Linked DNA regions of Homo sapiens: all the other regions are linked to region 3. The links come from fine-mapping of genetic effects on gene expression. A gene starts in region 3. Each other region holds a variant in brackets. All regions are shown on one strand. Distances are between the middles of the regions.

Region 1 (2,756 bases), 33 kb after region 3:
GCACAATTCAGTGGCTTTAATATATTTATAGAGTTGTACATCTATCATGATGACCGATTTCAGAACATTTTCATTACCCCAAAAAGAAAATTCACAACTTTTAGCAATCAACTTCCAGGCAGGGCATGGTGGCTCATGCCCGTAATCCTAGCACTTTGGGAGACTGAGGCAGGCAGATCACCTGAGCGCAGGAGTTCGAGACCACTGGGCAACATGGCGAAACCCCATCTCCACTATAAAATACAAAAATTAGCCGGGCGTAGTGGCAGGCGTCTGTAATCCCAGCTACTCAGGAGTCTGAGGCAGGAGAATTGCTTGAACCTGGGAGGCGGAGGTTGCAGTAAGCTGAGATCGCGCCACTACACTCTAGCCTGGGCGATAAGAGTGAGACTTCCTCTCAAAAAAAAAAAAAAAAAAAAAAAAAAATCAACTTCCAATCCCCCTTCCACCCTCAGCTACTAATCTACTTTCTATGTCGATGAATTTGGCTATTCTAGACATTTCAGGTAAATGGAATTACACGATGTGTGGCCTTCAGTGACTGGCTTCTTTCATTTAGCAGAAAGTTTTCAAGGTTCATCCATGATATGGGTATCAGCACTTCATTCCTTTTCATTGGCAAGTAATATTCCATTGCATAGATAGACCACATTTTGTTTATCCATTCATGAACACGTGGATTGCCTCCACTTTTTGGCTGTTGTGAATGATGCTGCTGTGAACATTTGTATCCGTGTTTTTGTGTGGCTGTGTTTTGCCGTCATTTCTCTTGGGTACGTATCTGGGAGTGGAATTGCTGAGTCATCTGGTAACTGTGTGTTTAATAATAGTTTGAGGAACTTTCAGGGTGTTTTCCAACTCTGTTCGTTTTACAGCCCTGCTTGTCTGCAGGGGTGAAGTTCTTACTCTGGGACAGGTACTAGGCTGTCTGCTTGTCTAATCTTTTTTTTCTCTGTCTTACATATCTCACCTTATCTTTTTCTAGATCTCTCAGCTCCTAGATTTCTTCTTTTTTTTCTTTTTTTGAGACAGAGTCTCACTCTGTCGCCCAGGCTGGAGTACAGTGGTGCGATGGTGGCTCACTGAAACCTCAGTCTCCCAGGTTCAACTGATTCTCCTGCCTCAGGCCCCCGAGCTGGAATTACAAGCCACCTTGCCCAGCTAATTTTGTATTTTTAGTAGAGACAGGGTTTCACCGTGTTGGCCTGGCTGGTCTTGAATTCCTGACCTGAGGTGATCCACCCGCCTCGGCCTCCCAAAGTGCTGGGATTGCAGGCGTGAGCCACTGTGCCCAGCC[A/G]CTCCTAGATTTCTTTTCTTTTTTTTTTTTTTGGAGGCAAAGTCTCGCTCCGTTGCCCAAGCTGGAGTGCAGTGGCGCAATCTTGGCTCACTGCAAGCTCCACCTCCCGGGTTCATGCCATTCTCCTGCCTCAGCCTCCCGAGTAGCTGGGACTATAGGTGTCCACCACCACGCCCAGCTAATTTTTTGTATTTTTAGTAGAGATGGGGTTTCACTGTGTTAGCCAGGATGGTCTTGATCGCCTGACCTCATGATCCACCTGCTTTGGCTTTGGCTTCCCAAAGTGCTGGGATTACAGGCATGAGCCACCGCGCCTGGCCCGCTCCTAGATTTCTTACATCTCAGTTTTAGAATCCAGCCCAGGGCTGAGTGCAGTGGCTTACGCCTGTAATCCCAGCACTTTGGGAGGCTGAATTGGGTGGATCACTTGAGCTCTCAAGTTCGACACCAGCCTGGGCAACATGATGAAACCTCATCTCTACAGAAAAATACAAAAATTAGGCTGGGCGCAGTGGCTCTTGCCTTGTAATCCCAGCACTTTGGGAGGCCGAGCTGGGTGGATCACCTGAGGTCAGCAGTTTGAGAGCAGCCTGGCCAACATGGTGAAACCCTGTCTCTACTAAAAATATCAAAATTAGCCGGGTGTGGTGGTGAGCACCTGTAATCTCAGCTACTTGGGAGGCTGAGGCAGGAGAATTGCTGGAACCCGGGAGGCAGAGGTTGCAGTGAGCCGAGATTGTGCCATTGCACTTCAGCCTGGGCGGCAACAGCAAGACTCTGTCTCAAAAACAAAACAAAACAATTAGCTGGGCATGGTGGTGTGCACCTGTAATCCCAGCTACTTGAGAGGCTGAGGTGGGAGGATGGTTTGAGCCTGGGAGGCCGAGGTTGCAATGAGTCCAGATCGTGCCACTGCACTCCAGCCTGGGCGATAGAGCCAGACTGCCGTGTCTCAAAAAAAAAAAAAAAAAAAAAAAAGAATCCAGCCCAAGTGTTAGCTAGAATCTCCTTGGTCCACTCATCAGGATCAGGATGGAGCTCTGATATCGAGTCCAGTTGGGATTAATCTGCTGTAATGGGGGCACAGGAGGACACATTGCACAAAGTGGCTGCTGAAAGCCTGCGCTCTGACCTCCCCTCCACACTGAAGTGAGGGAGGAGAGAGGTGTCAGGGAATCTGAGACCCAGCATGAGCCCCACACGGGAAGTGGTGCTTCTGCCCTACCCCCACCATTGCTGGAGGTCAAACCATTCCCTGCCCCTGCGTCTTGTCTTTCCCACCTGTAAAATGACAGGGCGTGCCCAGAAAGTTCCTAAGGAGCTTGTGACTTTGGTATCATATGGTTAGAACGTGGTAACCTTCAGAACTCCCCACACTGAGACCTGAGTTCCAGGGATTCTCAGAGAGGGATTGCTGGCAGGTGCCAGGTATCTGTCATTGTCATTGTAGAGCTCTCAG
Region 2 (2,756 bases), 62 kb after region 3:
CGTTGCAGGACTGGAGGAGGCTGGGGGAAGAGGAAGCCAGGGGGCGGGGAGGGGCCTCACCAGATGCCACGGGCGTCGGGCCAGTCGCGGGCCATGCCTGAGGCCAGCAGCAGCGGGGACACGGGCTTGTCGAACAGGAAGTGGTCATCGATGAGCTGCTGCTGCTCCTTCTCCGTCATGCTCTTCAGAGGGTAGTACTTCCCTTTGAACTCGCCCGTCAGGCTGTTGAGAGCTATGGGGACACACGAGGGAGTGGTCAGCAGCCTGTCCCACCTCAACCAGGGTGTGGAGGCCCAGGGTTTCCCCTGCTGCTGCTCCTAACGGGCCTGGGCCTTGGCCCCCTGGATGTCCTAAAGGCACCTGAACCCTGTGTCTAAACCCACACTTGTGACGGCTCCCCAAAATCTGTTCCTGCCATCTGTCCAGGCCCCCAGGAATGGCCACCCCATGTGCTCAATCTGGAAAACAGACCCACCTCTTCCCCTGAGGGACCCTCACATCCAATCCACCTGCAGGCCACAGTGTGCTGGTGCCTGCTCCTAATGGCTGGCAACACAGATGGCTGAAGTCTCAGGACTTTGAGAGGCCATTAGTAAAAATTATTATAAAGTAGAATGGTAGCCAGGTGCACTGGCACGAGCCTGTAGTCCAGATACTGGGGAGGCTGAGGCAGGAGGATCACTTAAGCCCAGGAGTTCGAGTCCAGTCTGGGTAACATAGCAAGACCCCCATCTTTTTTTTTTTTTTTTATGAGACGGAGTTTTGCTCTTGTTGCCCAGGCTGGAGCGCAATGGCGCGATCTTGGCTCACTGCCACCTCCGTCTCCCGGGTTCAAGCGAATCTCTTGCCTCAGCCTCTCAAGTACCTGGGATTACAGGCATGCGCCACCATGCCCGGCTAATTTTGTATTTTTAGTAGAGACGGGGTTTCTCCACTTGGGCGCCTGGCCCAAGACCCCAATCTTTAAAAAAAAAAAAATTGTAGGCTGGGCGCAGTGGCTCATGCCTATAATCCCAGCACTTTGGGAGGCCAAGGCAGGCAGATCACTTGAGGTCAGGATTTTGAGACCAGCCTGGCCAACATGGTGAAACCCCGTCTCCACTAAAAATACAAAAATTAGTCGGCCATGGTGGCACACGCCTGTAATCCCAGCTACTCAAGAGGCTGAGGCACGAGAAACACTTGAACCCAAGAGGTGGAGGTTGCAGTGAGCTGAGATTTTGCCACTGCACTCCAGCCTGGGTGACAGAGTGAGATTCTGTCTAAAAAAAAAAAAAAGAAAAAAAATTGTGTGTTTATTTGTATATTCATGTATAAAATATGTGTATAATGAATTTGTGTTTGTGCATATGTACAATAAATCTATAATATTTATATATCTTATACATATTCATATAATATACAGACATACCTCGTTTTATTGCATTTTGCAGATACTGTGTTTTTTACAAATTGGAGGTTTGTGGCAACTCTTTGTCCAGCAGGTCTATTGGAGCCATTTTTCCTACAGCATGTGCCACTTCGTGTCTCTGTGTCACATGTGGGTAATTCTCACAGTACTGCAGACTTTCTCATTATTACTATATCTGTCATGGCGATC[C/T]GTGATCAGTGATCTCTGATGTTACTGTTTTAATTTTGGGGGGTGCCACCGACCTTGCCCATATAAAAGGGTGAACTTAATGGATAAATGTGTGTGCTCGGACTGCCCCACTGACCAGCCATTCCCTCATCTCTCCCCATCTCCTTGAGCCTCCGTATTCCCTGAGACACATGATTTTGAAATCAGGCCAATTCAGTTCATAACCTTACAATGGCCTCGAGGTGTTCAAGTGAAAGGAAGAGTCAACATTTTTCACTTTAAATAAAAAGCTTCATAGGCCAGGTGCGGTGGCTCACGCCTGTAATCCTAGTGGTTTGGGAGGCTGAGGCAGGCAGATCACCTGAGATCAGGAGTTTGAGACCAGCCTGGCCAAGATGGCGAAACCCCGATTCTACTAAAAATACAAAAATTAGCCAGGCGTGGTGGCGCATGCCGGTGATCTCAGCTACTTGGGTGGCTGAGACACGAGAATTGCTTGAACCACGAGGTGGAGGTAACAGTAAGCCAAGATTGCACCACTGCACTCCAGCCTGGGCGACAAGAGTGTGGCTCCATCTCAAAAAAGAGATTCTTTTCAAACTATTACTGCTGGCCAGGCACTGTGGCTCACACCTGTAATGCCAGCACTTTGGGAGACCAACATGGGAGGATCACTTAAGCCCAGGAGTTGGAGGTTATGGTAAGTCATGATTGCACCACTGCATTCCAGCTGGGCAACAGAACAAGACCCTGTCTTGAAAAGAGAGAGAGAAAGAGAAGGAAGGAAGGAAGGGAGGAAGGGAGGGAGGAAAGAAGGAAGGAAGGAAGGACGGAGAAGAAAAGGGAAGGGAAGGGAAGGAAGGGAGGGAGGGAAGGAAGGGAAGGAAGGGAGGAAGAAAAGAAAGGAAAGGAAGGAAGGAAGGAAGGAAGGAATTGCCGCAGCCATCTCAACCTTGAACGACAACCGCCCTGATCAGTCAGCAGCCCATCAACATCAAGGCAAGGCCCTACACAACAGAAAGGTTCCAACTTGCTGAGTCCTCAAATGATCACAACATTTTTAGCAGGATTTTAAAATTAAGGTATGTACTTTTTTTTTTCTAGACATAATGCTATTGTGCACTTAACAGACTACAGTATAGGATAAACATAACTTTTTTTTTTGAGATGGAGTCAC
Region 3 (2,756 bases):
TGGTGGTGCACACCTGTAGTCCCAGTGACTTGGTGGGGCTGAGCTGGGAGGATTGCTTGAGCCGGGGATGTCCAGGCTGCGGTGAGCCATAATCGTGCCACTGCACTCTAGCCTGGGTAATGCAGTGAGACCCTGTCTCAAAAACAAAACAAAGCAAAGCAAAACAAAACACCCCCAGCTCTCTGCAGGTGGGGGTGTGGAGCCTTAATTTGTAGCATTTGCCAATTTCCATGGTGTAAATATTCCCACCATGGCTAATTTCAAGCTACCAAGGTGATATCACATGGCATTTTTGCCCCCCATTATATAGTAATTTTACTGTGCAGCTACAATAGACGTAGGTAACCTCAAGATCACAGATAATGGCAAATGTAGTAAGATAACTAGGACGTGATGAGTATGTATTACTTGTACCTTTAATGTAATTTAATTGTATGTTTGCATAATTTAATTTTTAATAATGGCTGTGTTTAACAACCAGTTCCAAAATTCCTGAGACATAACAATCAGCTCGCTCCAGCCAGATCCAGCACACTGCTGTTTTAGAAGGGGAAACTGAGGCTCAGGAAAATAAGCCTCAGATAGAAGAAGGCAGGGCACAGACCCCTTCCCAAAACCATGTGACTCCCAGGCCAAGACTATGTAATGCCTGTCTTTCTTTCATCCCACCCTGGTCCACAGAGCATGGATGGTCCCCACAGCGCTGTGTGGCCTCCGAGAGGCTCTTGTCCTCTCTGGTCTCAGCCTGCCCGCATGGGGAGTGGCTGTGCCCTGCAGGCGAATACCTGCACAGGGTTCCTTCGCACCTGCCAGTGAGCAACACACGGATTCTTCCTTTCACTTTACAAACTGGGAAAGTGAAGCCCAGAAAGGGCAAGTGCTTGCCCCGGGTCATACAGGTGGACAGAGAGGGTCCCCACACCCCAGCTGGGGTGCAAAGGAGTGGATGCTGCAGCCCCAACCTGCGGGTCTGGATCTATGTGGCTGAGTGGAGGCAGCCTGACTAGGGAGGTCACTGAGCCCTCAGCAGTGGCCAAGCCCCGCACACCATCCCCTTCACCCACCCCACCCTTAGGCCTCCGAGGGGAGAGCTTCCCCCGCTCCCCCCCGCCAACTGGGGAGAGAATGGGCCAGGGGGAGGGACAATGTGGGCAGCGCCTCTGGGGTCTTCTCTGGCTCAGTCCCTTTATCTCTATCTCTTCACAGATCTCTGCGTCTCTGTATCTCTTTGTCTCTCCCTGTGTGTGTGTGGGGTCTCTCTCAGTCTTTGTCCCTCTGCGTCTCTGGGTCTCTCTGTCTCTGTCTCCCTGCGTCTCTCTCTCTCTGTCATCTGGCTCTTCCTTCATCTCCTTGCGCCTCTCCACCCTTTTGTAACTCGTCTCTCTCTCTTCGTGTCTCTCTATCTCTACGTCTCTCGATCTCTCTCTCTGCGTCTCTGGCGCTCTGCCCCGGCCTCTCTCTCCCCTTCTCTCCTCTCCAGTGCGCCTCTCGTCTCGGGCGAGAACACGCTCCCCGCCGGCGTGCCCAGACCCGCCTCCGCCCCCGGAGCCCCCGGAGCCCCCGGCGCCCCGACCAGCCCGGGCCTGCGCCTTTAAGGGCCGGCGGCGGGGGGCGGGGTCCCGGCGCCCCGCCCTGCCCGCCCCTCCCCCTGACGTCCCTTCCTCCCTCCCCAGCCCCTCCACCGCCTCCCTCCGCCGCCGCTTGGGCCGGCTCCGCGCCCCCTCCGCGGCCCCCGCCCGCCCGCCTGCCCGCCGCCCCCATGGCGCCCGGGGTCCCCGCTGCACGGGGCCACTAGGACCCTCGGCGTCCCTTCCCCTCCCCCGCCCTGCCCCCTCTCCCGCCGCGCGGACCCGGGCGTTCTCGGCGCCCAGCTTTTGAGCTCGCGTCCCCAGGCCGGCGGGGGGGGAGGGGAAGAGAGGGGACCCTGGGACCCCCGCCCCCCCCACCCGGCCGCCCCTGCCCCCCGGGACCCGGAGAAGATGTCTTCGCGGACGGTGCTGGCCCCGGGCAACGATCGGAACTCGGACACGGTGAGTGGGGCCCGGCCCCTTGGGGAGCCCTGGCTGGGTCCAGCCGCCAAACCCTTCTCCCCGTTGTACCCCTCGCCCCGCGAGCCCCTACCCTCGTTTCCTGGGCCCGACCCGGCTCGTCACCTCTCGACCCCTCCCGGACTTCCAGGCCTCTCCACCCTCCCCACCTTTTCCAGCCCAGCCCGACCCCTGGGGGCGCCCCTCTCTCGGGACCCCTCTCTTGTCCCCGTGCAGACCGCTTCCGCTCGGGTCTGTTCCCTCCAGGAAGCCCCTTCCCCTGCTTCCAGGAGCCCCTCCCTTCTCTTGCCTGTGCTAAGCCGTTTCCCCTCCAGGCCGTCCGCGTCCGACACCTCGCCCCCTCCCGGATTTGCAGGGCCCCTGACCCCCCAAGGCCCGGCCCTGGCACTCTCAGCAGGGCCTGGCCCAGTCCTGCCTCTGGCTCCGGCCTTCCCTGTCTGGGGCTGGGTGCCGGCTCCCCAGGAGCCCCCCTCCTCTTATTCCCAGCCCTCTGCCCCTCCAGGACGCACCCAGGGCGCCTGTGGGCAGCCCCTGGCAGGAAGCTGGTTTCCACCTCTCCTGGGCCCCGGCCCTTTTCTGGCTTCTTCAAGGTCTCTCCCGTCCCAGGCCTGGTCCCCATCTTCCAAGCAGCCCTGTCCCTAGATCCCAGCACCCCGGGGCCCCCAGATGCCACCTGGACCCTTTCTGGTCTCTTCCTCTCCCAGGAAG

The links. PIP is the estimated chance that this variant, and not a neighbour inherited with it, causes the effect.
Region 1: its variant is the best candidate, but not a certain one, in a credible set for the expression of MARK4 in blood mononuclear cells (TOPMed, PIP 0.66).
Region 2: its variant is the best candidate, but not a certain one, in a credible set for the expression of MARK4 in whole blood (INTERVAL, PIP 0.54).

What each region holds. Positions count from the first base shown.
Region 1 is chr19:45,283,011-45,285,766 of GRCh38, forward strand. The region is part of intron 12 of MARK4 (microtubule affinity regulating kinase 4); the gene reads left to right. Among named protein-coding and RNA genes, the nearest start is that of MARK4, 33 kb to the left of the region's middle. The variant A/G (reference allele first, on the strand shown) is at 1,298.
Region 2 is chr19:45,311,689-45,314,444 of GRCh38, forward strand. It overlaps CKM (creatine kinase, M-type), which reads right to left. Exons shown (of 8, transcript NM_001824.5): 5 at 61-232. Among named protein-coding and RNA genes, the nearest start is that of CKM, 9.8 kb to the right of the region's middle. The variant C/T (reference allele first, on the strand shown) is at 1,601.
Region 3 is chr19:45,249,610-45,252,365 of GRCh38, forward strand. MARK4 (microtubule affinity regulating kinase 4) reads left to right here and starts at 1,662. Exons shown (of 17, transcript NM_001199867.2): 1 at 1,662-2,030. The coding sequence starts at 1,980. RefSeq lists silencers at 1,337-1,716, 1,947-2,096 and an enhancer at 2,570-2,756.